Linked DNA regions of Homo sapiens: region 2 is linked to region 1. Evidence: fine-mapped QTL for protein levels in blood plasma. Region 1 holds a variant in brackets. A gene starts in the other region. All regions are shown on one strand. Distances are from middle to middle.

Region 1 (12,820 bases):
GCGCCTGTAGTCCCAGCTACTCAGGAGGCTAAGGCAGCAGAATGGCGTGAACATGGGAGGCGGAGCTTGCAGTGAGCCAAGATTGTGCCACTGCACTACAGCCTGAGTGACAGAGTGAGACTCCATCTCAAAAAAAAAAGAAAAGACACAGACTGGGCTGGGCATGGTGGCTTACACCTGTAATCTCAGCACTTTGGGAGGCCGAAGCGGGTGGTTCACAAGGTCAGGAGTTTGAGACAACCCTGGCTGACATGGTGAAACTCCATCTCTACTAAAAATACAAAAAAAATAGCCGGGTGTGGTGGCTCACACCTGTAATCCCAGCTACTCAGGAGGCCGAGGCAGGAGAATTGCTTGAACCTGGGAGGCGGAGGTTGTAGTGAGCCAAGATTGTGCCACTGCACTCCAGTCTGGGGAACAGAGCAAGACTCCATCTCGGGAAAAGAAAAAAAAGACATAGACTGGCAAATTGGATAAAGAGTCAAGACCCATCAGTGTGCTGTATTCAGGAGACCCATCTCACATGCAAAGACACACATAGGCTCAAAATAAAGGGATGGGGGAATATTTACTAAGCAAATGGAAAGCAAAAAAAAAGCAGAGGCTGCAATCCTAGTCTCCAATAGAAATGACTTTAAACCAACCAAGATCAAAAAAGAAAAAGAAGGGCATTACATAATGGTAAAGGGATCAATGCATCAAGAAGAGCTAACTCTCCTAAATATATATGCACCCAGTACAGGAGCACACAGATTCATAATGCAAATTCTTAGAGATCTACAAAGATACTTAGACTCTCACACAATAATAGTGGGAGACTTTAACACCCCATTGTCAATATTAGACAGATCAATGAGAAAGAAAATTAACAAGGATATTCAGGACTTGAACTCAGCTCTGAACCAAGTGGACCTAATAGACATCTACAGAACTTTCCACCCAAAATCAACAGAATATACATTCTTCTCAGCACCACATAGCACTTATTCTAAAATTGACCACATAATTAGAAGTAAAACACTCCTCAGCAAATGAAAAAGAATGGAAATCATAACAGTCTCTCAGAACACAGTGCAATCAAATTAGAACTCAGGATTAAGAAACTCACTCAAAACCACACAACTACATGGAAACTGAACAACCTGCTCCTGTATGATTACTGGGTAAATAACAAAATTAAGGCAGAAATAAATAAGTTCTTTGAAACCAATGAGAACAAAAACACAATGTACCAGAATCTCTGGGACACAGCTAAAGAAGTGTTTGGAGGGAAATTTTTTTTTTTTTTTTTTTGAGACAGAATCTCGCTCTGTTGCCCAGGCTGGAGTGCAGTGGTGCGATCTCAGCTCACTGCAACCTCCGCCTCCCGGGTTCACGCCATTCTCAAGCCAAAATTGACAAATGGGATCTAATTAAACTAAAGAGCTTCTGCACAGCAAAAGAAACTATCATCAGAGTGAATAGGCAACCTACAGAATGGGAGAAAATTTTTGCAATCTGTACATCTGACAAAGCTTTTTTTTTTTGAGACGGAGTCTCGCTCTGTCACCCAGGCTAGAGTGCAGTGGCGCGATCTCTGCTCATTGCAAGCTCCACCCGCCGGGTTCACGCTATTCTCCTGCCTCAGCCTCCCGAGTAGCTGGGACTACAGGCCCCCGCCACCACGCCCGGCTAATTTTTTGTACTTTTAGTAGAGATGGGGTTTCACCGTGTTAGCCAGGATGGTCTCGATCTCCTGACCTCGTGATCCGCCCACATCAGCCTCCCAAACTGCTGGGATTACAGGCGTGAGCCACCGTGCCCGGCTGACAAAGCTTTAATGTCCAGAATCTACAAGGAACTTAAACAAATTTACAAGAAAAAAATAAACAATCCCATCAAAAAGTGAGTGAAGGATATGAACAGACAGTTCTCAAAAGAAGACATTTATGCAGCCAACAAACTTATGAAAAAAAGCTCATCATCACTGGTCATTAGAGAAATGCGAATCAAAACTACAATGAGGTAATCATCCCATGCCAGTTAGAATGATGATCATTAAAAAATCAGGAAACAACAGATGCTGAAGAGGATGTGGAGAAATAGGAATGCTTTTACACTGTTGGTGGGAGTGTAAATTAGTTGAACCATTGTGGAAGACAGTGTGGCGATTCCTCAAGATTCTAGAACCAGAAATACCATTTGACCCAGCAATCCCATTACTGGGTATATACCCAGAGGATTATATATCATTCTACTATAAAGACACATGCACACGTATGTTTATTGCAGCACTATTCACAATAGCAAGGACTTGGCACCAACCCAGATGCCCTTCAATGATAGACTGGATAAAGAAAATGTGGCACATATACACCATGGAATACTATGCAGCCATAAAAAAGAATGAGTTCATGTCCTTTGTAGGGACATGGATGAAGCTGGAAACCATCATTCTCAGCAAACTAACACAGGAACAGAAAACCAAACACCACATGTTCTCACTCATAAGTGGGAGCTGAACAATGAGAACACATGGACAGGGCCAGGCGCAGTGGCTCACGCCTGTAATCCCAGCACTTTGGAAGGCTGAGGCGGGCAGATCACGAGGTCAGGAGATTGAGACCATCCTGGCTAACACGGTGAAACCCCATCTCTACCACAAATACAAAAAATTAGCCGGGCGTGGTAGCGGGCGCCTATAGTCCCAGCTACTCGGGAGGCTGAGGCAGGAGAATGTCGTGAACCCAGGAGGCGGAGGTTGCAGTGAGCCGAGATTGCGCCACTGCACTCCAGCCTGGGCGACAGAGGGAGACTCGGTCTCAACAAAAAAAAAAAAAAAAAGAACACATGGACACAGGAGGGAGGGGAACATCAAACACTGGGGCCTGTCAGGGAGTTGAGGGCAAGGGGAGGGATAGCATTAGGACAAATAACTAATGCATGTGGGGCTTAAAACCTAGAAGATGGGTTGATGTGTGCAGCAAACCACTATGGCACATGTGTACCTATGTAAGAAACCTGCAAGTTCTGCACATGTATCTCAGAACTTAAAGTATAATAAAAAACAAAAATATAGGCCAGGCTCAGTGGCTCACGCCTGTAATCCCAGCACTTTGGGAGGCCGAGACGGGCGGATCAAAAGGTCAGATCGAGACCATCCTGGCTAACATGGTGAAACGCCGTCTCTACTAAAAATACAAAAAATTAGCCGGGCGTGGTGGCGGGCGCCTGTAGTCCCAGCTACTAGGGAGGCTGAGGCAGGAGAATGGCGTGAACCCAGGAGGCGGAGCTTGCAGTGAGCCGAGATCGCATCACCGCACTCCAGCCTGGGCAACAGAGCAAGACTCCGTCTCAAATAATAATAATAATAATAATAATAATAGTAATAATAATAATAAAAATATATAAAAAATAAAAATAAAAAAAGAATACCAAATTGGGTGGGAGATATTGTTGCCATCTTTTGAATAATATGATCTACCTCAAGCCCTAAGAATACCGAATGTAGGCCGGGTGCGGTGGCGCACGCCTGTAATCCCAGTACTTGGGAAGGCCAAGGCAGGCAGGTCACTTGAGGCCAAGAGTTCGAGACCAGCCTGGCCAACATGGAGAAACCCCATCTCTACTAAAAATACAAAAATTAGCCAGGCTTATCACGAGGTCAGGAGTTCAAGACCAGCCTGGCCAACATAGTAAAACCCTGTCTCTACTAAAAATACAAAAATTAGCCAGGCATGGTGGTGCATGCCTGTAGTCCCAGCTACTTGGGAGGCTGAGGCAGGAGAATTGCTTGAACCCAGGAGGCAGAGGTTGTGGTGAGCTGAGATTGCACCACTGCACTCCAGCCTGGGTAACAGAGCGAGACTCTGTCTCAAAAAAAAAAAAAAAAAAATTAGCCAGGCTTGGTGGCTGGTGCCTGTGATCCCAGCTACTCGGGAGGCTAAGGCACAAGAATCATTTGAACCCGGAAGGGGGAGGTTGCTGTGAGCTGAGATGGTGCCACTACACTCCAGCCTGGGTAACAGAGTGAGACTGTCTCCAAAAGACAAAAAAAAATTAAGAATACCTAAAGTTTAATCTACAGGGTTTTAAAAGTCAGAAGCAAGTCGACTTCTAAAAACTGGGGCAGGCACAGTGGTTCATGCCTATAATTCCAGCACTTTGGGAAGCCGACATGGGAGGATTGCTTGAGCCCAGGAGTTCAAGACCAGCCTGGGTAACATGGTGAGACCCTGTCTCTGCAAAAACAAATAAAAACCCAGAAAGACAAACAAACAGCAACAACAAAAACGAGCTGGGCATGGTGGCAAGCACCTGTAGTCCCAGCTACTCAGGAGGCTAAAGCTGAAGGATCACTTGAGCCAGGGCAGTCCAGGATGCAGTGAGCAGTGGTGATGATGCCACTGCACTCCAGCCTGGGTGACAGAGTGACATCCTGTCCCAAAATAAAAAATAAATAAAAACTGAAAAATTCATTATTTCTGGCACGTCTTGAGTTTAACAGGCTGAAACTCATAGTTGCTACTACTCTTCATCTTTTTTTTTTTTTTGAGACAGGGTCTTGCTCTGTTGCCCAGGCTGGAGTGCAGTGGCATGATCATGGCTCACTGCAAACTCTGCCTCCTGGGCTCAAGCGATTCTCCAACCTCAGCCTCCCGAGTAGCTGGGACCACAGGCGCCCAGCTAATTTCTTTCTTTTTTTTTTTTTTTTTTTTGTATAGACAGGATCTCATCATGTTGCCTGGGCTGGTCTTGAACTCCTGGGTTCAAGTGATCTTCCCATCTTGGCCTCCCAAAGGTCTGGGATTACAGGCGTAAGCCACTGCACCCAGTCAGTATTAGCTAATATTATTTGATCCTTTAAGACATCATAACAGGCTGGGCACGGTGGCTCACGCCCGTAATCCTAGCACTTTGGGAGGCCAAGACGGGTGGATCACTTGAGGTCAGGAGTTTGAGACCAGCCTGACCAACATGGTGAAACCCCATCTCTACTAAAAATACAAAAAATTAGCTGGGCATGGTTGCTCATGCCTGTAATCCCATCTACTTGGGAGGCTGCGGCAGGGGAATCGCTTGAACCCAGGAGATGGAGTTGCAGTGAGCTGAGATGGTGCCATGGCACTCCAGCCTGGATGACAGAGCAAGACTCCGTCTCAAAAAAAATAAATGAATAAAGACACCATAACACAAAATGTCACCTGACATTTAAAGGATAGGTAAAGTGGTTGGCGTCTAAGGCCAGACTGCCTGTAACTGCAGCCTGACATGGCGATTCTTGGGCAACTGATTTACCTGGGGAGGTGCTCTTAGAAACTACCTGTAAGAGCTGGTCACAGTGGCTCACGCCTGTAATCCCAGCAATTTGGGGGGCCAAGGCGGGTGGATCACTTGAGGTCAGGAGTTTGAGACCAGCCTGGCCAACATGTTGAAAACCCCTGTCTACTAAATATACAAAAATTAGCCGGGTGTGGTGGTGGTGGTGTGTGCCTGTAGTCTCAGCTACTTGGGATGTAAGGCAGGAGAATCTCTTGAACCTGGGAGGCAGAGGTTGCAGTGAGCTGGGAACACGCCACTGCACTTCAGCCTGGGCAACAGAGTGAGACTTCATCTCAAAAAAAAAAAAAAAAAACAAACAAAAAAACAAGAAACAAAAAAAAATCCAGGCCCAGTAGCTCACTCCTGTAATCTCAGCACTTTGGGAGGCTGAGGCAGGCGGATCACGAGGTCAAGAGATCGAGACCATCCTGGCTAACATGGTGAAACTCTGTCCCTACTAAAAATACAAAAAATTAGCCGGGTATGGTGGCGGGCGCCTGTATTCCCAGCTACTCGGGAGGCTGAGGCAGGAGAATGGCATGAACCTGGGAGGCGGAGCTTGCAGTGAGCCGAGATCACACCACTGCACTCCAGCCTGGGTGACAGAGCGAGACTCCATCTAAAAAAAAAAAAAAAAAAAAAAAAAAAAAAAACTTGCATGAGTGTGGTATATTTGTTATAACTGATGAACCAATATTGATATATTATTAACCAAAGTCTATAGTTTGCATTTGGGTTCACTTTTTGTTGTTTTTGTCATGAGCCACCACACCTGGCCAGGGTTCGCTCTTTGTGTTGCACATTCTATGGGTTTTGACAAATGGATAATGACATATATCCACCATTCTAGCACCATACAGAATAGATTCCTGGTCCTAGAAATCCTGTGGTCCACCCGTCCATCTCTCCCTCTCCACCCACCACCCACGTGCAACCTTTGATCTCTTTGCTGTCTCCTTAGTTTTGCCTTTTCCACAATGTCAAATACCTGGAATCATAGAGTATATAATATGATACAGTATATGAAAGAAGCCCTTTCCACATGGGCTTCTTTCCCTTAGCAATATGTATTTAAAGTTCCTCCACGTATGTTGTTGCTTGATAGCTCATTTCTTTTTATCACTAAATGATGTCCCATTGTATGGATGTACCACAAGGTTATCCATTCACTCGTTGAAGGACATCTTTATTGCTCCCAAGTTTTGGTAATTATGAATAATGCTGCTATACACAATTATGTACAGGTTTTGTGTAGACATGTTTTCAGTTCATGTGTAAATCGTATTCCTTTTTAACTTTTGTATTTATGCACACATTTATATAGTTGTAAAACTAAGCTTATATATTTTTTTCTTTTCTTTATTCTCCCTGGGAGCATAGATTCAAGTTGCCATGAATATACACTCCCACGTATACTTTTTTAAAAGTGATATTTTACATAATTTTCTGCAATTTGCTTTTTAAGATAACAATAATCTTTTGTTATAAAAGCAGTATATGTGCTTTTAGAAAGTTAGCTCATGTGGGTAAGTAAAAGAAAATAAAGACACATGCCAGGCATGGTGGCTCACGTCTGTAATCCCAGCACTTTGGGAGGCTGAGGCAGGAGGATCACTTGAGGTCAGGAGTTCCAGACCAGCCTGGCCAACATGGTGAAACCCTCTCTCTACTAAAAATACAAAAATACAAAAAAAAAAAAATTAGTTGGGCAGAGTGGCAGGCGCCTGTAATCCCAGCTATGC[A/G]GGAGGCTGAGGCAGAAGAATCACTTGAACTTGGGAGGCAGAGGTTGCAGTGAGCCGAGATGGCACCACTGCACTCCAGCCTGGGCGACAGAGCAAGACTCCACATCACTTATGCCACATTCTATTGGTCAAAAGGGGCAGAATCTGTTTGATCCCAAATCTTTGAAACAATGCAGAGGCTAGTGCAATGATTCTCAAAGTAGGATCTAGGGATCTTTTTTTTTTTTTTTTTTTTTTTTTTTGAGACGGAGTCTCGCTCTGTCGCCCAGGCTGGAGTGCAGTGGTGGGATCTCGGCTCACTGCAAGCTCCGCCTCCCGGGTTCACGCCATTCTCCTGCCTCAGCCTCCCAAGTAGCTGGGACTACAGGCGCCCGCCACTACGCCCGGCTAATTTTTTGTATCTTTAGTAGAGACGGGGTTTCACCGTTTTAGCCGGGATGGTCTCGATCTCCTGACCTCGTGATCCGCCCGCCTCGTCCTCCCAAAGTGCTGGGATTACAGGCGTGAGCCACCGCGCCCGGCCGGATCTAGGGATCTTTAGATGTTCCTGAGATCCTTAAAAAGGGACCTGTGAAGTTAAAACAATTTGTCATACTACTGTTAAGACATTGTCCTTTTAACTCGAGTGTAGAATGGAGTTCTCCTGAGGTGTAATACATAATGTGATACTGCAATAGATTGAATAAAGCAGATATAAGAATCTGTCTCCTACGAAGCCAGACATGAAATACATTTGCAGAAATGTAAAACCATTGTCCTCATAATTTTTTGTTTTGGAAAAATTATTTTTTTAGAGACAGGGTCTTGCTCTGTTGCCCAGGCTGGAGTGCAGTGGTGCAATCACAGCTCACTGAAGACTCGAACTCCCAGGCTCAAGCCATCCTCCCATCTCAGCCTCTCAAGTAGCTGGAACCACAGGTACACGCAGGCTGGGCTTATTTATTTTTTGAGACAGAGTTTTGCTCTTGTTGCCCAGGCTGGAGTGCACACATTACAGGTGTGAGCCACTGTGCCTGGCTCAAGTTTTTTTTTTTAATAAAAATGTTACTTATATAAACATGACATGTCATTTTAAAATATTCTAGCAACTTTTTTTTTTTGAGACAGTCTTGCTCTGTCGCCCAGGCTGGAGTGCAGTGGTGTGATGTCACTTACTGCAACCTCTGCCTCCCGTCCAAATTCTCCTGCCTCAGCCTCCCGAGTAGCTGGGATTATAGATACCTGCCACCATGTCCAGCTAATTTTTTTTTGTATTTTTAGTGGAGATGGGGTTTCACCATGTTCGCCAGGCTGGTTTCAAAATCCTGACCTCAGCTGATCAGCCCACTTCGGCCTCCCAAAGGGCTGGGATTACAGGTTGAGCCATGGCACCCAGCCTTTTTTCACCTTTTTTGGACACAGGGTCTGTCATCCAGGATGGTGTGCAGTGGTGAAATCACAGGTCACCACAGCCTGGACCTCCTAGGCTCAAGTGAGCCTCCTGGCCCCACCTCCCAAAATGTGGGGGTTTCAGGTGGAAGCCAGCACACACAGCCCATTTTTCATTTTCCATTGGCAAAAATCCAAGTTTGATAACCTACCTATAAGAAGATGGGTACTCTGTACATTTCCAGAACAAATAAAGTGGTCTAACACTTGGGAGTGTTTGGAAGAATCTGCCAAAATTAAAATGCACAAATCTGGCAGGGTGTGGTGGCTTATGCCTATAATCCCAATACCTTGAGGTCTAGGCAGGAGGATAGCTAGAGCCCAGGAGTTGAACCAGCCCAGGCAATAGGAACTGGGGCCATATGTGATAAACGTGCCCATGAACAGCCACTGCACTGGCCTGGGAAACAAGAGCACGGCCTCATAATTATTGGGGAGGAGTTGAGAATTGAGCACAGCGGGGAGAAATGGGAGTTTGTTGTCTGAGTAGTCAGCAGTTATTCTCTTCTCTCATCCATGTACAGTTTAGCACTGACTTCTTCAGGGACGAGTGAGAAAATGCCACCACTTCACAATGGTAGAGGGTGGGTGAAAAAGTTATTAGCCAGGCACCAAGAACCAATCTGAAGCCAAGAACAGCAATGCAAAGCCAACAAACTAGCTCTCTTGTAGACACCACTCCCTTCCAATCCCATTCTCTACTAAGGAAAACCCCCAGGTGAGCTGGCATGGTCAAACTACACCTTCAGGTAGGTAAGAATTTTTTTTAAAAACCAAAAATTAAAAAAAGAGACACAAAATGTAGTCAGCTATTTAATTAGGTTCTTAAGACATTTAGAACACCAATTTGTGAGGATAAATTCCATTCGTCAGAGCAAACACAGATCGCAGGTAGCCCTGGAGCTGAGGAATAGCTTTGATTTTTGGTAAAATTTGTGAGTCCACAGCTTTCTGATCAATCTTGCGCTGCTCCGTAATCTCATATTTCTAAATAAAGAGAAAATCAAACATTTTAAAACAGGCACATACCAAATTACTTGTAGGTCAACTAAGGAGTCCTGTCTCACAAGTACTAATCCCCAAGAATATTTAGAAAACATTAAAGACAATTTTGACAATCCTTTCCTTGGAATGCTGTGAAACACAACCCATTTTTTAATGTAATAAAAGTAGCTCTTAAGCTTTTGTATACTTTAGGACACATCAAGGATAAGTAAGGGCACATTCCCAATACGATGGTAGCAGTTAATTCCCACACAATTCCACCAAACTTTAGGATTCTAAGTTGAGCTCCCAGACTGCCAAAAGAACTACTCAATTTAGAAGAATCTGGAATACTAAGTATCTCCCAGCATTCCTCATTATTTAACCTTTCATTTTTCTTCTTTTTGTGCAACCTGTTTCTTTTCACTCCCAGGTAGAAGGGCCAGTGCTAACACAGGAGATGACAAGTAGAAACTTACCTCTTTTTCTGTGTCGAAGATCTCACCTTCCTGGTGTCTGGGCTTCCGCAGCTTCTTCTTCTTGAAGTAAGCATCAGTAAGATGTTTTGGGATTTTTACATTGCTGATATCGATTTTGGTTGAAGTGGCAATGACAAATTTCTGGTGTGTTCTTCGTAGAGGAACTCGATTGAGGACCAGAGGTCCTAAGGGGGAAAAATTAATTTAGCAAGGAAAAGGGGGAAGAATCATCATCCTGCAATTTAGGTGACCATTACTTGTTATGTTGCTACACAAAGAAGACCACTTGTCTAACCCACTTGCACACAAGGCAATGAAATGGGCCTCAGACACTTGTGGCAATAAGTGTCTACCATGTAGGCAGTAGCAAACAAACGTGTATACTGCAAGCATTTAAAAATGGAAGTTTCACAGAACATCACAATCCAAGGATTTTCTTACCAGTCACAAGTAATAAGCCACTAGCCAGCTGCTTCAGGAAAACCACCCTCTGTAAGTTAAAAAGAAAATAATTAGTTTTCTGCAATTAAAAACTGACTTCTGAATTCATAAAATCACAGGCATCTAAATTTGGGTAAAGGAAATTTCTACATGTATATGTATACAGCTCGGCAGTTCTGGAAGCAACCACAGCAAGCTACTAAGGTAGTACTCCAGACATAAACACGTTTTTGAGTAAATGAACATGTGTAACATAATCAACAGCAGGAAATGGCTAATAAATCACCATGGATTACACTTCTTATTTGCAACAACTAAGTTGTATCTTGCAGATCATTTCCCCTTGCCCCAAACATAGGTAAATAAAGGAAAAGTACACCTAGCGTGCAAACGCATTGCCACCAGGCACCCCAGGCAGCTGCAGTGAAGCGCCCCAAGCACAGGTACTCTCACCTTGCCCCTGTGGCGTCCAGTGAGGATGATCAGAATGGTCCCGGGGGTAATGCTGGCTCGCAGTTTTCTCACGTGCTGACTGAAGGGTTTTTTGCCGTGGCTCAACAGCTTTCGAGGCACATCTTCAGTAGGATAATATCTAGGCTGTGGAGAGTCCATAGATCCAACTTATTTAAATAAGCCATTCAGATTACTAGAAGCAAGCTATGTCAGCCAAACTTTTGCTACAGCCTTTTTATTTTAAAGTATAATACTGTATTTATATGATTCCATTTTCATTTCTGCTAAGTAGACTTGGAAAAGGTCAATTATGCTTCTGCATCCTGTGTGCAAAAAAGGAGACACCATTTAATGAATGAGATGTGTGCTCAAGCAAAGAAAGCATCAAGCAAGTCACCTTTGCAATCTTGAGCAAAAACTAAACCTCAGAGATTACACGTGTGACATGCCACATTTTGCAGATTAGGGATACATGGCTTGTTTTCCAATTCAAGTAAAGTGTGTCCATATCCTAGCCACTTCATCTGATCCTCACAGCAACAAGTCTTACTCCCACTTCATCCACAAAGGAAAACAAATTGCATAAAGCCAGACACTAGGACTGGCAGATCATTTATTGCAGAAGTTAGACACCATGCAAGGGCCATTAAAGACATGACTACAAATAACTCACAATAACCTATTTCCAACTATACCATATCATTAGTGCAGTCTCACTTTCACCACAAACATGATCACCTAATGGGAAAACGAGTTCACAAAACAACTGTCATCTTCCCTCTCATGCAGTAATCTTCAACTGTGAAACTGTATGGTGTTAACTTATTTGGGAATGTTCCCATAATGAAAATTACAGAGCAAATCCTGAGATTACATTGGGTCTTGTGTGTGGTAAAGGGGGCCAAGAAACACTGCTCTAGTGGGAAATGTTCTATAGAACAGGCTATGTATTATTTCATTTAATCTCCATAAAAACTCTTTGAGGTAAACCCTCATTCCCATCTTATCTTTTTTTGAGATGAAGCCTCCCTCTGTCGCCCAGGCTGGAGTGCAGTAGTGCAATCTCTGCCTCCCGGGTTCAAGCGATTCTTCTGCCTCAGCCTCCAGAGCAGCTGGGACTACAGGCACGCAACCAGCTAATTTGTATATTTTTACTAGAGATGTGGTTTCACCATGTTGGCCAGGCTGGTCTTGAACTCCTGACCTCAGGTGATCTGCTCGCCTCAGCCTCCCAAAGTGCTGGGATTACAGGCATTAGCCACCACACTCAGCCTCATTCCCATATTATATGCAAAGGAACAAAGCACAGACGAGTAATTTAAATTACTTAAGATTAACAGTAAATGTTGAAGCCAAGTTACAAACCCAGAGCCCTTTATTTTCTATCAGAAATTCTCCGGTATGCAGAAACTTACAGTATCTAAGTATTCAAAAACATCTTCACAGTATTCAAGCATAAACAGAAAATCCAATTTACAGTCCCCACATCTTACCATTTTGCGAAGTTTAACCACCCGGGTACCGCCGTTCTTGTCACCACCAACTGGTTTTGTAACAGTTGCGAGAACCTTCTCCTTCTTTTTCTTTTCAACCTACAAGGACACAAATGCATCAACAGTAAGAGAATGCCAATTAAGGTTAAGACATAATGGTCCGTGGTCCTCTTCCCTTACCTTGGATTTAGCGGCTGAGTACTTCCTCTTGTACATGGCCTTTCTGGAATACATGGCAGATCGGGAATACCTGCCAATTCCTCTGACAAGGACAGGGTTGCGGCTGCAATGGGGCTTCCCCTTCTTGGGCTTTTTAGCTTTGAGGTTACCCTTTTTCACCTTGCCACCAGCATCAACCTTCTTGGCTTCGGGTTTCTTCTCTTTAGTATCTGGCTTCTCAACTTTTTCACCCGCCATCTAAAAATATTTTTTTGTAGATAAAAAAAGGCATTTCACCAGTCATCTCTCTAACAAGACAATAATGAACCTGTACATGAAT
Region 2 (12,567 bases), 100 Mb before region 1:
TTCAGCCTCCTGAATAGCTGGGATTACAGGCACACGCCACCACGCCTAGCTGATTTTGTATTTTTAGTAGAGATGGGGTTTCTCCAGGTTGGTCAGGCTGGTCTCGAACTCCTGATCTCAGGTGATCTGCCCGCCTCGGCCTCCCAAAGTGCTGAGATTAAACTGTGAGCCACTGCGCCTGGCCACAGCAATCTTCTTCTCTGCCAGCTGCTTCAATGACTGCGGAGCCCAACGTGCAACAAGGAAGTCTCATCTTCCTGTTCATCAGGATAATGGTCATATTCCTTATTAGAATAATCTTGCCATAGGCATTAGAACCTCTAAACCCAGCACAAACAAGATCTTGGGAAAAGGAGACAATTTTCAAGTGAATTATTAGGTGTACTAGTACAAGGCTACTCCAAATCTGAATCCTAACTCTATGCTTTTGTTCCCATACCTGTACATTCTGGCTATGGCAGAGACAGCAACATATATTGGTAAGGCAAATACCCCCTCTTAAAAAACTGAATCCCACACTTGCAAGCTGTTTTATTCCAACTGGTGTCATTAGTGTGCTTTCAGGAAGTCATTTCAATACCCTGGTTAGCCAGTTACTTAGGGGCAAGTAACTTCTTTTTTTTTTTTTGAGATGCAGAAAACATTCTATTTTTTGATTACATGGCTCAGATAGTTTCATTCAGTGTCATCAGCAATGAACTTCATGAAACATGTTCATCTTTCCTGTCTAGGTAGATGTCACAGTAGCCCTGGTTTTTAAGTGTTGCCTCTAAAACTTGTCCTCTTTCCAGCATTCTCTTCTTTTTTTTTTTTTTTTTTGAGACGGAGTCTCACTCTGTCTCCCAGGCTGGAGTGCAGTGGCGCGATCTCGGCTCACTGCAATCTCCGCCTCTCAGGTTCACGCCATTCTCCTGCCTCAGCCTTCCAAGTAGCTGGGCCCAACACCATGCCCGGCTAATATTTTTTTTTCTTTTGTATTTTTATTAGAGATGGGGTTTCACCGTGTTAGCCAGGGTGGTCTCGATCTGCTGACCTCGTGATCCGCCCGCCTCAGCCTCCCATCCAGCATTCTCTTCTTTCTCTCAACCTGCCACTATTGAAAACTCACTTTTCTTTTGCATTTTGTCCTACGTGTGAAAACTATTGAGCTGAAGTAAGACCCAAGGTAGATCCCAAGGGCTTCAGATCTACCCTGTCAAGGGCACAGAATGGTTAGCAATAGAGCCCCTTGTTAAGGTCAATCATGGTTAATAACATGAATGTTAAATTCTAATATTACTTAACAGTATCTAAATTCTAATATCCTTAATTTCACAAAAACAAACTTTTCTAACACTTCTTACCAGTAAAGGATTTAGCTCACACGAATATACTCTCAGATAACCTTAAGAATTCTGCCTTGCTTTGTAATTCCTGCCAGTGCTGCATAAGCCAGCAGTTCTCAGCATCTTTTTATTCTAGCTGATCTCTAGTTTCTCTGGTAGCTTTTTATCACAGACGGAGCTGTTAAACAGGTCGTAGATTCTCTGAACCAGTTCATCCTTATTTCGCTTGAGATTTTTTTCCAGAGTACTGTTTTGACTTTTCAAGGTCAAGCAAGAAACATCCAGGGACTTTGCGCTTATGAGTCCTAGTCTTGCATTTTTCAACTTTGGCCACACCGGGTTTCTTCTTTGAAGGTCCACGGTTTTTCTGTCCCTTACCAGCAGGTGTTACAGATACATTTTTGGTCTTTGCCTTCCTCTTCCTCAGTGGCTCCACTATATTTTTGGTCTTTGCCTGTCTTTTCCTCAGTCACCCCATGATATTTTTTGGTCTTTGCCTTCCTTTTCCTTGATTATTCCACCACAGGTGCAGGCACTTCCTCAGTTGGCAGCTTCCTCTCTGAAACCTCAAGTTTAGTCTCAGGATCACCTGGTGGTTCACTAAGATTCTCACCAAGATCATGCTCAACCAGCATCATCAGATGAATCATGCTGGCAGACAGCAGCCTCATCCAGCTCTTCTTCATCTGAGGCAGTTTGGTCCTCATCATACGAATCTTCTGCTGGCACAGAAACTTCCAAATCATTACTGTCATCATTGTCATCATCACCATCACTAATAACTATTGGAGGGTTCCTGGATGGTGGGCTGCACATAACAACACTCCAGACTCTCATCGTCACTGCTTATTTAGAATATCTTAGCTTTCTTCTCCTCATAGGAGTAGCATTCATCATCAGAGTCAGAGTTGATCACTACCATAGAGCTGGACTGTCTCTTCTGAGCTCTTCTGGCCATAGAAGACCCGTGGTTCTCATCACTGCTTGAATCAACGTTAAGGATGTATCAATTCTCCTCTGGGTTGTGCAAGTGGCACAGCTCTTCTTTGTACCTGTCCATGTCTGGTCTTGCAGCCTCTGGTGTGGCCAGCGGCAGCTCACCTCCAACTGCCCATGGAATGTGTGTGAGATCCTGAGCAACTGGGCAAGTAACTTCTATAGGCATGAACTGATTGTCAATCTTTCTTTGTTGTAAAATGTCAAATACAATATTGTGTGAGGAACCATGACAATGGATAAGACATTCTGTAACTCTTAAGTATTGATGTTAGTAGAAGCACTGTAGGCATAGAAGGCAAATCTGTTCCTAAAATATGTGATTGTTCCTATGAAGACCAAGCAGCATCTAGTCCAAGATTAAAGAGACTTAAGTAATAAATCTGCCCTTAGGTGACTGGCTGGTAAATCTCCTGGTTCCAGGCATAGTCCATGCCAAAATGAAAATGTTTTCCCCCTAAATTTTGCTTTTATTTATTTATTTTTGTATTTAGAATTAGTCTTAGAATGCCAAAAAAATTGTCAGTATTTTTTTGTCTTCTTCAAGTTATAATATTGAGCAAGTGCAGGTAGCCAACTAGAAGCAGCTAGTGTGTGCTGTTCTCACAGGAGAAATAGAAGGGGCTAGTAAATACAGCACCTTCAACTGAAGCATCCAGTTACACACATTGGGATTCATCAAGAAAACAACTCAATCCGTGGAGGATGAAGTAAAGCAAGGCAGGACGACTGCCCACCCGGGAGCAACATGGAGCCAGGGGAGCCTTCCCCACCCAGGGAAGCAGTGAGTGACTGAGCACCTGGGGGAGCACAATTCTCCCATGGATCTTTGCAACCCTTGGGTCAGGAGATCCCCTTGTGAACCCATCCCACAAAGGCCTGCAGTCTGACACACAGAGCTACAGGGAGTCCTGGAAGAGTAGCCTCTCAGGCACACGCAGAGCCCTGGGAGCCTTAGATACCAGGGCTTCCCAGCAAAAGTGGCTGGGAATTTAGACATCTCTACATCCCTAGGAAAGGGGCTGAATCCAAGGGGCTGAGCAGGGATTGTCCGCAGGCCCTGCTTCCATGGCACCTCACAGGATAAGACCCTCTGGCTTGGAACTCCAGCCAGCCACTGGTAGCAAGGTTATACCTCCCCTGAGATGAATCTCTCAGAAGGAGGGGCTGGACATCATTTTTGCTGTTTTGCAGCCTTAGCCATTGTTGCCAAAATCCAAGGTGACTAAGGATTGGAGAAGCCCCCAAAATAGCACAGCTGCTCTACAGGGAGGCTGCCAGACTGTTTTTTTCACGTGGGTCTTGGATCCCATTTCTCTTCACTGAGCAAAATCTCCTCACTGAGGTCCACAACCACCTCCACAAGTGTTTTTGAGCTGGCAACAGGTCTGTACCCCTCTGGGATGGGGTTTCCAGAGGCAAGGATAGCCCACCATCCTTGCTGTCTTACAGCCTTAGCCATTGTTGCCTTCAGGGAGTCTGAGGCGACTAGGGACTGGAGTGGTCCCCTGGCAGAGCACAGCAGCTCTACAGAAAAGTGGCCAGATTGCCTTTCCATGTGAATCCCAGACCCTGTTTCTCTTTACTGGCTGGAATCTCAAAACCAAGATTTACAACCACCGGGTGTTTTCCAGTTGACAACACGTCTGTACCTCCCTAGGATGGAGCTCCCAGAGGGAAAGGCAGGCTGCCATTTGTGCTGCTTCACAGCCTTCACTGTTGTCACTTTTGGGCGTTGGAGAGTCTGAGGTTATGAGGGGGCTGGTTGGACCCTCAACACAGCACAGCTGCTTTACAAGAAAGTGGCCAGAGTGCTTTTTTATAGCAGTCACTGATCCTGTTTCTCCTCACTGGGTGTGACCACCCAACTGGGATCACCAGCCACCCTCACCAGTGTGTTTGGGCCAGCAACATGTTGGAACCTCCCTGGGATGGAGCTCCCAGTGGGAGAGGCAGGCTGCCATCTTTGCTGTTTCACAGCCTTCACTGTTGATACCTTCAGGTACTGGAAAATCCGAGGTAACTAGGGACTGGAGTGGACTCCCAGAATACTGCAACAGCCCTGCAAGAATGGTGGCCAGATTGTTACATGACCAGACTGTTACCTTGATCCCGTATCTCCTCGCTGGGCGGGTCTTCTCAGCCTGGGCCTCCAGCCACCCCCTGCTGTGGCTCTCGAGCCAGTAGCAGCTCTGCCACTTCCTGGACAGAGTTCCCAGTGGGAGGGGAAGGTTGCCATCTTTGCCGTCTTGCATCCCTCGCTCTGTCTCCAGGCTCTGGAGAGTCTGTGGGGACCAGGGGCTGATCTGGCCCTCAGCACAGAGCACCCACCTCATGAATAAGTGGCTGGACTGTTCTCCACACACATGCTGGACCTCACTTCTCCTCCCTGGGCACAGCCGCTGGACATGGTACTGCAGCACAACCACCCTGCCCCCAACTTACCACTTCAATCAAAGGCAGCCCAGCATTTCTCTGAGGAGGAAATCACAGAGTCAACCCACAACCCCTCCACCACTGCAGTTGCAGCGGTGCTGCCTAATGGCCGTTGGGCTGGGGAAAGAACAAAGGGCCTAGTGACCACACTGGCCCCTCCAGCACACCACAGTCAACATACAGAAAGAGTCCAGCCCCTTTTCCCTGAGAACTTACACCCCCTAACTCTTCACCAGGCAGGGCCCCTGGCTCATGACCACAGAATGGTTGCCCCATACATGGCTGACCATACCCACTGGTAGTGGCTCAGAGTTCCCCTGGGGAGAGGCTTCCAGAGGCATCCAACAGCTCCTCTGCCACAGGGATAGAAACAGTTCTATCCCTGCTACCCTCAGTCTGGGGAAGAAACAAAGATCCTGAGGGCTACACTCAAGCTTACAGCATGCCACAGACACCATAGGGAGAGGAGACCATTCTCTCCTCCTGATTACTCTTAATCCTCTGCTCCCCAAAAAGTGGAATACCAAGCTCATGCCAGCAATGCAGCTGCCCCACCCCCATGGCTGAACACTTCCAGTAACAGCAGCTCTGCATTCCTCAGACATGAGACCCCCAGGGGCAACCAAAAGCCCATCTGCCACTGCCTCTGCAGCGGTACTACTCCTGCTACCCTCAGACTAATGAAGGAGCAAAGACCCTAACTACCTTATCCATACCCCCATCAAGCAACAGTCGACCCAAGGAGAGGAGCAAAGTTCATCTCCCACAGGTCCTGCACACTTCCCCTGCTCATCACCAAGCAGAGAAACCCTGGTTTGGGCCCATAGCACAGATACCCCCATCCTGGGCAGACTGCACTGAGCAATTGCTGACCCACACCTCTCTGGGGTAGAGCCCCTAGGAGGTAAATAAAAGACCTTCAGCCACAACCACTCCTAAGGTCCCTTCTGCTGCTGCCTCCAAGTTGGAGAGGAAACATAAACACTGAGATCACCCCAGAGCTGTGGGGGAAAGCCCAGGAATGACAAGCCATAATCTACAGCCAACACTCAAGTGGGAGAGGATCCCAAACTTTCAGAGCATTGAGAGGCAGCATGGCTGCAACTGTGAAGAAATATAAGGGAGCCACACAACTGATCAAGAGCCAACCAACTGAACACTCTGCCTAAGCACAACCTACTGCATCACATCCCAAAGCTTTAATACCAAACTACTTCACTAACATACCACCCACTCCACTATGAGACCAAAGACAAGTCAGTTGCAAGTAAAGACCCTGCACAAAGCCTCAACCCTGTGAATACATCCAGAAAAGAAGTCTACTGACTATATGCAATCTACATCATGGCTAAAGAAACACTCAAATGCAGAGAAGAGAAAGAAGCAACACAAGAACTCCAGCAACTCAAATGGCCAGAGTTTCTTATGTCCTCCAAATGACTGCGCTAGTTATCCAACAAGGGTTTTAAACCAGCAGAGCTGACTGAAATGACAGAAATAGAATTCCGAATATGGATAGAAATGAAGATCATCAGCATTCAGGAAAATGGTAAAACCCAATCCAAGAAAACTAAGAATCACACTAAAACAATACAAAAGCTGACAGACAGAATAACCACTATAGAAAAGAACCTAACTGATCTGCTAGAGCTGGAAAACACATTACAAGAATTTCACAATACAATTCCAAGTATTGACAGTGGAATTGACCAAGCTGAAGAACTTGAAGACTAGCCCTCTAAAATAAGACAGTCAGACAAAAACAAAGGAAAAAGAATGAAAAGGAAGGAACAAAATCTTTGAGAAATATAGGATTATGTAAAGGCGCCAAATCTACAAATCATCGACATCCCTGAAAGGGATGGGGAGATACAAGCTGGCATAATAACCAACTAACAATACAATGACAGGATCAAATCCACACATATGAATACTAACCTTGAATGTAAACAGACTAGCTGCCCCATTTAAAAGGTGCAGAGTGGCAAGCTGGATAAAAAATCAAAGCTCAATGGTATGCTATCTTCAGTAGAACCATCTCACACACAATGACACACAGGCTTGAAATAAAGGGATGGAGGAAAATCTAACAAGCAAATGAAAATCAGTAAAAAAAAACAGGGTTTGCAATCCTAATTTCAGACAAAACAGACTTTAAACCAATAAAGATGAAAAAAGACAAAGAAGGACATTACATAATAATAAATTCAATTCAGCGAGAAGACTTAACTATCCCAAATATATATGTACCTAGTACAGGAGCACCCAAATTCATAAAGCAAGTTCTTAGCTACAAAGAGTCTTAAATATTTACAAAATAATAGTGGGAGACTTTAACACTCCAGACAGGTCATCAAGGGAGCAAATTAACAAAGATATTCAGAACCTGAACTTGACATTGGACCAAATGGATTTGATAGACCTTTACAGTACTCCGAACCCAGAAAACCAGTATATACATTCTTCTCATTGCCACATGCCACATAATCTAAAATTGACCGCACAATTGAATGTAAAACAATTCTTAGCAAATGCAAAAAAAAAAAACAAAAACTCAAAAACCAAAAAACAAAAAAAGCAAAATCATGCCAAACACATTCTTGGACCACAACGCAATAAAAATAGAAATCAAGACAAAACAAATCACTCAAAACCATGCAATTACATGGGAATTAAACAACATGCTCCTGAATGACTTTGGGGATAAATAATGAAATTAAGGCAGACATCGAAACATTCTTTGAAACTCATGAGAACAAAGATACGACATACCAGAATCTCTGAGACACAGCTAAGGCAGTATTAAGAGAAAAACTTATAGCGCTAAACGCCTACACAAAAAAGTTAGAAAGATCTCAAATTTAACACTCTAACATATAACTAAAAGAACTGGAGAAGTAAGAGCCAACCAACCTCAAAGGTAGCAGAAGACTAAATATAACCAAAATCAGAGCTGAACGGAAAGAGATTGAGATACAAAAGAAACATCAAAAAGATCAACAAATCCAGGGGTTGGTTTTTTGGAAAAAAAAAAAAGTCTCTCATTGGACTAATAATGAAGACAAGAGAGAAGACTCAAATAAATACAATTAGAAACTACAATGGGGATGGTACCACTGACCCCCATGAAATATAAATAACCATCAAAGACTACTACAAACACCTCTATGTATACCAAACTAGAAAACTTCGAAGATATAGATAAATTCCTGGACACATACAGCCTCCCAACACCGAACCAGGGGGAAATTGATTTCCTTAACAGACCAATAATGAGCTCTGAAATTGAATTAGTAATAAATAGCCTACCAACCAAAAAAAGCTCAGATGGATTCACAGCCAAATTCTGCCAGATGTACAGAGCTGGTACCATTCCCATGGAAACTATTCCAAAAATTTGAGTTGAAAGGACTCCTCCCTAACTCATTCTATGAGGCCAACATCATCCTGATACCAAAACTGGCAGAAGCACAACAAAAAAAAGAAAACTCGAGGCCGGCATCCTTGAAAAACATAGATGCAAAAATTCTCAACAAAATACTGACAAACTGAATCCAGCACCACTCAAAGAGCTAATTCACCATGATCAAGTGGACATTATCTCTGGGATGCAAGGTTGGTTCAACATACACAACTCAATAAATATGACTCATTTCATAAACAGAACTAAACACAAAAATCACATGATTATTTCAATAGAAACAGTAAGAGGTTTCAATAAAACCAACACGCTTTCATGTTAAAATCACTCAATAAACTATGTATTGCAGAAACATCTCAAAATAATAAGAGCCAGCTGTAATAAGCCCACAGCCAACATTATCCTGAACAGGTGAAAGCTGGAAGCATTCCCCTTGAAAAGCACAAGACACGAATGCCCACTCTCAACATTCCTATTCAACATAGTATTGGAAATCCTTGCCAGAGCAATCAGGTGAGAGAAAGAAATGAAGGGCATCCAAATAGGAAGAGAGGACGTAAAACTATTCCTGTTTTCAGACCATATGATTATATACCTAGAAAACCCCATACTCTTGGCCAAAAAGCTCCTTCAACTGATAAACAACATCAGCAAAGTTTCAGGATACAAAATCAACATACAAAAATCACCAACATTCCTGTACACCTATACACAACACCCAAGCTGACAGCCAAATCAGGAATGCAATTCCATTTATGATAGCCACAAAAACAATAAAATACATAGGAATACAGTCAACCAGGGAGGTGAAAGAGCTCTACAAGGATAATTACAAAACATTGCTTAAAGAAATCAGAGATGACACAAACAAATGAAAAACATTCCATGCTCATGGATCAGAATAATAAATATCATTAAAATGGTCATATTGCCCAAAGCAATTTACAGATTTAATGCTATTCCTATCATACTACCAATGACATTCTTCACAGAACTAGAAGAAAACTATTTTAAAATTCATCTGGAACAGAAAAATTAGCCCAAATAGCCAAGGCAATCCTAAGCAAAAAGAACAACACTGGAGGCATCACATTGCCCAACTTCAAATTATACTACAGTACTACAATATCCAAAATAACAAGGTACTGGTAAAAAAAAAAAAAAAAGCAGACACATAGACCATTGGAACACAATGGTCTAATGCAGACACATAGACCACTGGACAGAAAGCCCAGAAATAGTGCTGCACAACTACACCCATCTGATCTTCAGCAAAGCTGACAAAAACAAGCCATGGGAAAAGGATTCCCTTTTTAATAAATGGTGCTGAGATAACTGGCTAGCCACATGCTGAAGATTGAAAGTGGACCCCTTCCTTATACCATATACAAAGCTCAACTCAAGATGGATAAAATACTTATGTCTAAAACCCCAAAATATAAAAAACCCTGGAAGATAACCTAGGAATTACCATCCTGGACACAGGAATGGGCAAATATTTCATGACAAAGATGCCAAAAGCAATTGCAACAAAAGTGAAACAAAACAAAACAAACAAACAAAATAATTAACTGTAAGAGCTTCTGCACAGCAAGAGAAACTATCAACAGAGTGAACAGATAATCTACAGAATGGGAGAAAATTTTTGCAGACTATGCATTTGACAAAGGTCTAATATCCAGCATCTGTAAGAAACTTAAACCAATCAACAAGCAAAAAATAAACAACCCCATTAAAAAGTGGACTAAGGACATGAACAGATACTTTTCGTGTTTTATTTATCAATCTTAATTTACTTCTTATCCATTTGGAGTGTCAAATAATGGCCAAAGAAATTGTAATTATAAATTAAAGAACAAAATTTAGCAAGTAAAAATAAACAAAAATAACACAAAAATGTATTATCCTTTTACTTTTGTCATTAAGCAACAAATATATTTCTGATAATTTGTCAAATATTTTCTCCTTGAATTAATAGTTTATCTTATTTAAAAGGGTATATTGTGTTTTTAAAATTTTATTTTAAATTTGGGAGTACATGTGCAAATTTGTTACATAGGTAAACTTGTGTAATGGGGGTTTGCTGTAAAGATTATTTCTTCACCCAGGTATTAACCCTAGTACCCATTAGTTATTTTTCCTGATCCTTTCCCTCTTCCCACCCTCTATCCTCCAGTAGGCACTAATCATTAGGGAAATGCAAATTAAAACCACAGTAAGATACCATCTCATACCAGTCGAATGGCTATTATTAAAAAGTCAAAAAATAACAGATGCTGATGAGGTAGTGGAGAAAAGGGTTCACTTATACACCTTTGATGGGAGTGTAAATTAGTTCAACCATTATGAAAGATAGCATGGTGATTCCTTAAAGACCTAAAACCAGAAATTTGACCCAGCAATCCCATTACTGGTATATACCCAAAGGAATATAAATCTATCATAAAGACACATGCATGCATCTGTTCATGGCAGCACTGTTGACAATAGCAAAGACATGCAATCAACCTAAATGCCCATCAATGGTAGACTGGATAAAGAAAATGTGATACACATATACAAAGGAATACTATGCAGCTATAAAAAAGAATGAGATGATGTCCATTGCAGGAACATAGATGAAGCTAGAGGCCGTTACCCTTAACAAACTAATGGAGGAACAGAAAACCAAATACCACATGTTCTCACTAATAATTGGGATCTAAATGATGAGAACACATGTACACATAGAGGAGAATGACAGACACCGGAGCCTACTTGAAGGTGGAGGGTGAGAGGAGGGGCAGGATCAGAAAAACATAACTATGTAGTACTAGTCTGAATACCTGGGTGATGAAATAATATGTACAACAAACCCCTGTGACATGATTTTACCTATATAACAAACCTACACATGTAGCCCTGAACCTAAAAGTTAAAAAAAATCAAATTATACTGTTAAATTATTAGCATGATTTATAAACAATATTGTTTTAGGATAAAGAATTTAATTGCTTGGCAATTGCAAATTATTAAATTAAATATCAATATGTTAGGGAGGCTAATTCAAATGATATAAATATTTAGGCTATAACAAAAGGCAGCTATATATTATTAACCTCACCTCAAAAAGGGGCATAATTTCCATTCCCTTGACTTTAAGGGTAAATTAAGAGAAATTTGTAAAGCACTCAAAAGAATATTCAATTCAATATGTGGTGGACAGTTGAGAAATTATGTGTTATCTATGTCATGGGAAAGCAACTTTTAAAAAGAAAACATTTCCTCTGAGGTTTTCACAAATAAGTGAAACTGTGAACCCTCATATGTACTGTGAAAGGACAATTTGAGGAGCATCTCTGATTAGCAGCAGATTTATTATTCTTTCCTCATTTCATGTTATACTTAATAAAACAAAACATACCTGTATACACACACATTCACTCACATTGAAGATGCAAGATGAAGAAAGATACATGACATTGAATGTACAGTCAAAGAAAAGGAGTTCTGCCCAAACATCTCAACTTACATTTAAAGGTATGGAATTTAATTTCATTTTTTCAATTGGTGTGAATTAACATGGTAGTTTCCCGTATCCTGTTCCATTGTGTTATTGGACTGTTTCAGTATTTGGGTGCTTTTCTTTCTCCGTCTCTGTATCTCTCTCACCTGTCCTCTCTTTCAATATTAATAATGATTTAAAAATAACAACCTCTCTTACCATTTAAGAAACACCAGTTTCCGGCACTATACAGAATGTTTTATCTATGTTCCTTCATTTAATCTTACAAATTTACTATGAGATAATCTCTCTCTCTCCCATTTATCAATGTGGAACTAACACTTACTTGTAATATTTTGTCTGATATAATTTCTTAAGGACATTCTCTGAGGAAATATGCATACTCAATTAAAATTAATAATTTCAAATTAGTGAATATTTGCTGCCATTCACCTCCTTATCATTCATAGAATATGGTGTTTTAATGCTATTTTTTTTTTTTGAGACGGAGTTTCACTGTTGTTGCCCAGGCTGGAGTGCAATGGCATGATCTCGGCTCACTGCAACCTCTGCCTCCCAGGTTCAAGCAATTCTCCTGCCTCAGCCTCCTGAGTAGCTGAGATTATAGGTGCCCGCCACCATGCCTGGCTAATTTTTTGCGTTTTTAGTAGAGATGGGGTTTTACCATGTTGGCCAGGCTGGTCTTGAACTCCTGACCTCAGGTGATCCACCCACCTGAGTCTTCCAAAGTGTTGGGATTATAGGCATGAGCCACCGCGCCCAGCCTTTAATACTAATTTTTAATTCAACTTCTCAAAAACTTTATGCTTTTCACCAAGTTGACTCAAAATAAAGTTTATACACCAGCAATCAACATTTTAATTTGCTACTTCAAGCATACCCTC

Direction of the effects. Alleles are on the strand shown, and positions count from the first base shown. The strength of an association depends on the size of the effect and on how common the allele is.
For the plasma level of the protein whose gene starts at base 11,549 in region 2, A is the low allele of the variant in region 1 and G is the other (moderate association).

Evidence for each region. A credible set is the group of variants that fine-mapping cannot tell apart. PIP is the posterior inclusion probability: the model's chance that the variant is causal. Protein levels are from antibody-based Olink assays in UK Biobank. Linkage for the fine-mapping came from a reference panel and not from the study's own genotypes, which makes the PIPs less certain.
Region 2: it holds the start of KLRF1, and the variant in region 1 is the best candidate, but not a certain one, in a credible set for the plasma level of the KLRF1 protein (UK Biobank, PIP 0.75).

The regions. Positions count from the first base shown.
Region 1 is chr12:112,395,919-112,408,738 of GRCh38, forward strand. It overlaps RPL6 (ribosomal protein L6), which reads right to left. Exons shown (of 7, transcript NM_000970.6): 2 at 12,502-12,738; 3 at 12,322-12,420; 4 at 10,829-10,972; 5 at 10,376-10,424; 6 at 9,935-10,119; 7 at 9,271-9,458. The coding sequence starts at 12,738. The coding sequence ends at 9,306. Among named protein-coding and RNA genes, the nearest start is that of RPL6, 7.3 kb to the right of the region's middle. The variant A/G (reference allele first, on the strand shown) is at 7,044.
Region 2 is chr12:9,815,933-9,828,499 of GRCh38, forward strand. KLRF1 (killer cell lectin like receptor F1) reads left to right here and starts at 11,549. Exons shown (of 6, transcript NM_016523.3): 1 at 11,549-11,697. The coding sequence starts at 11,613. It also overlaps the pseudogene GCNAP1.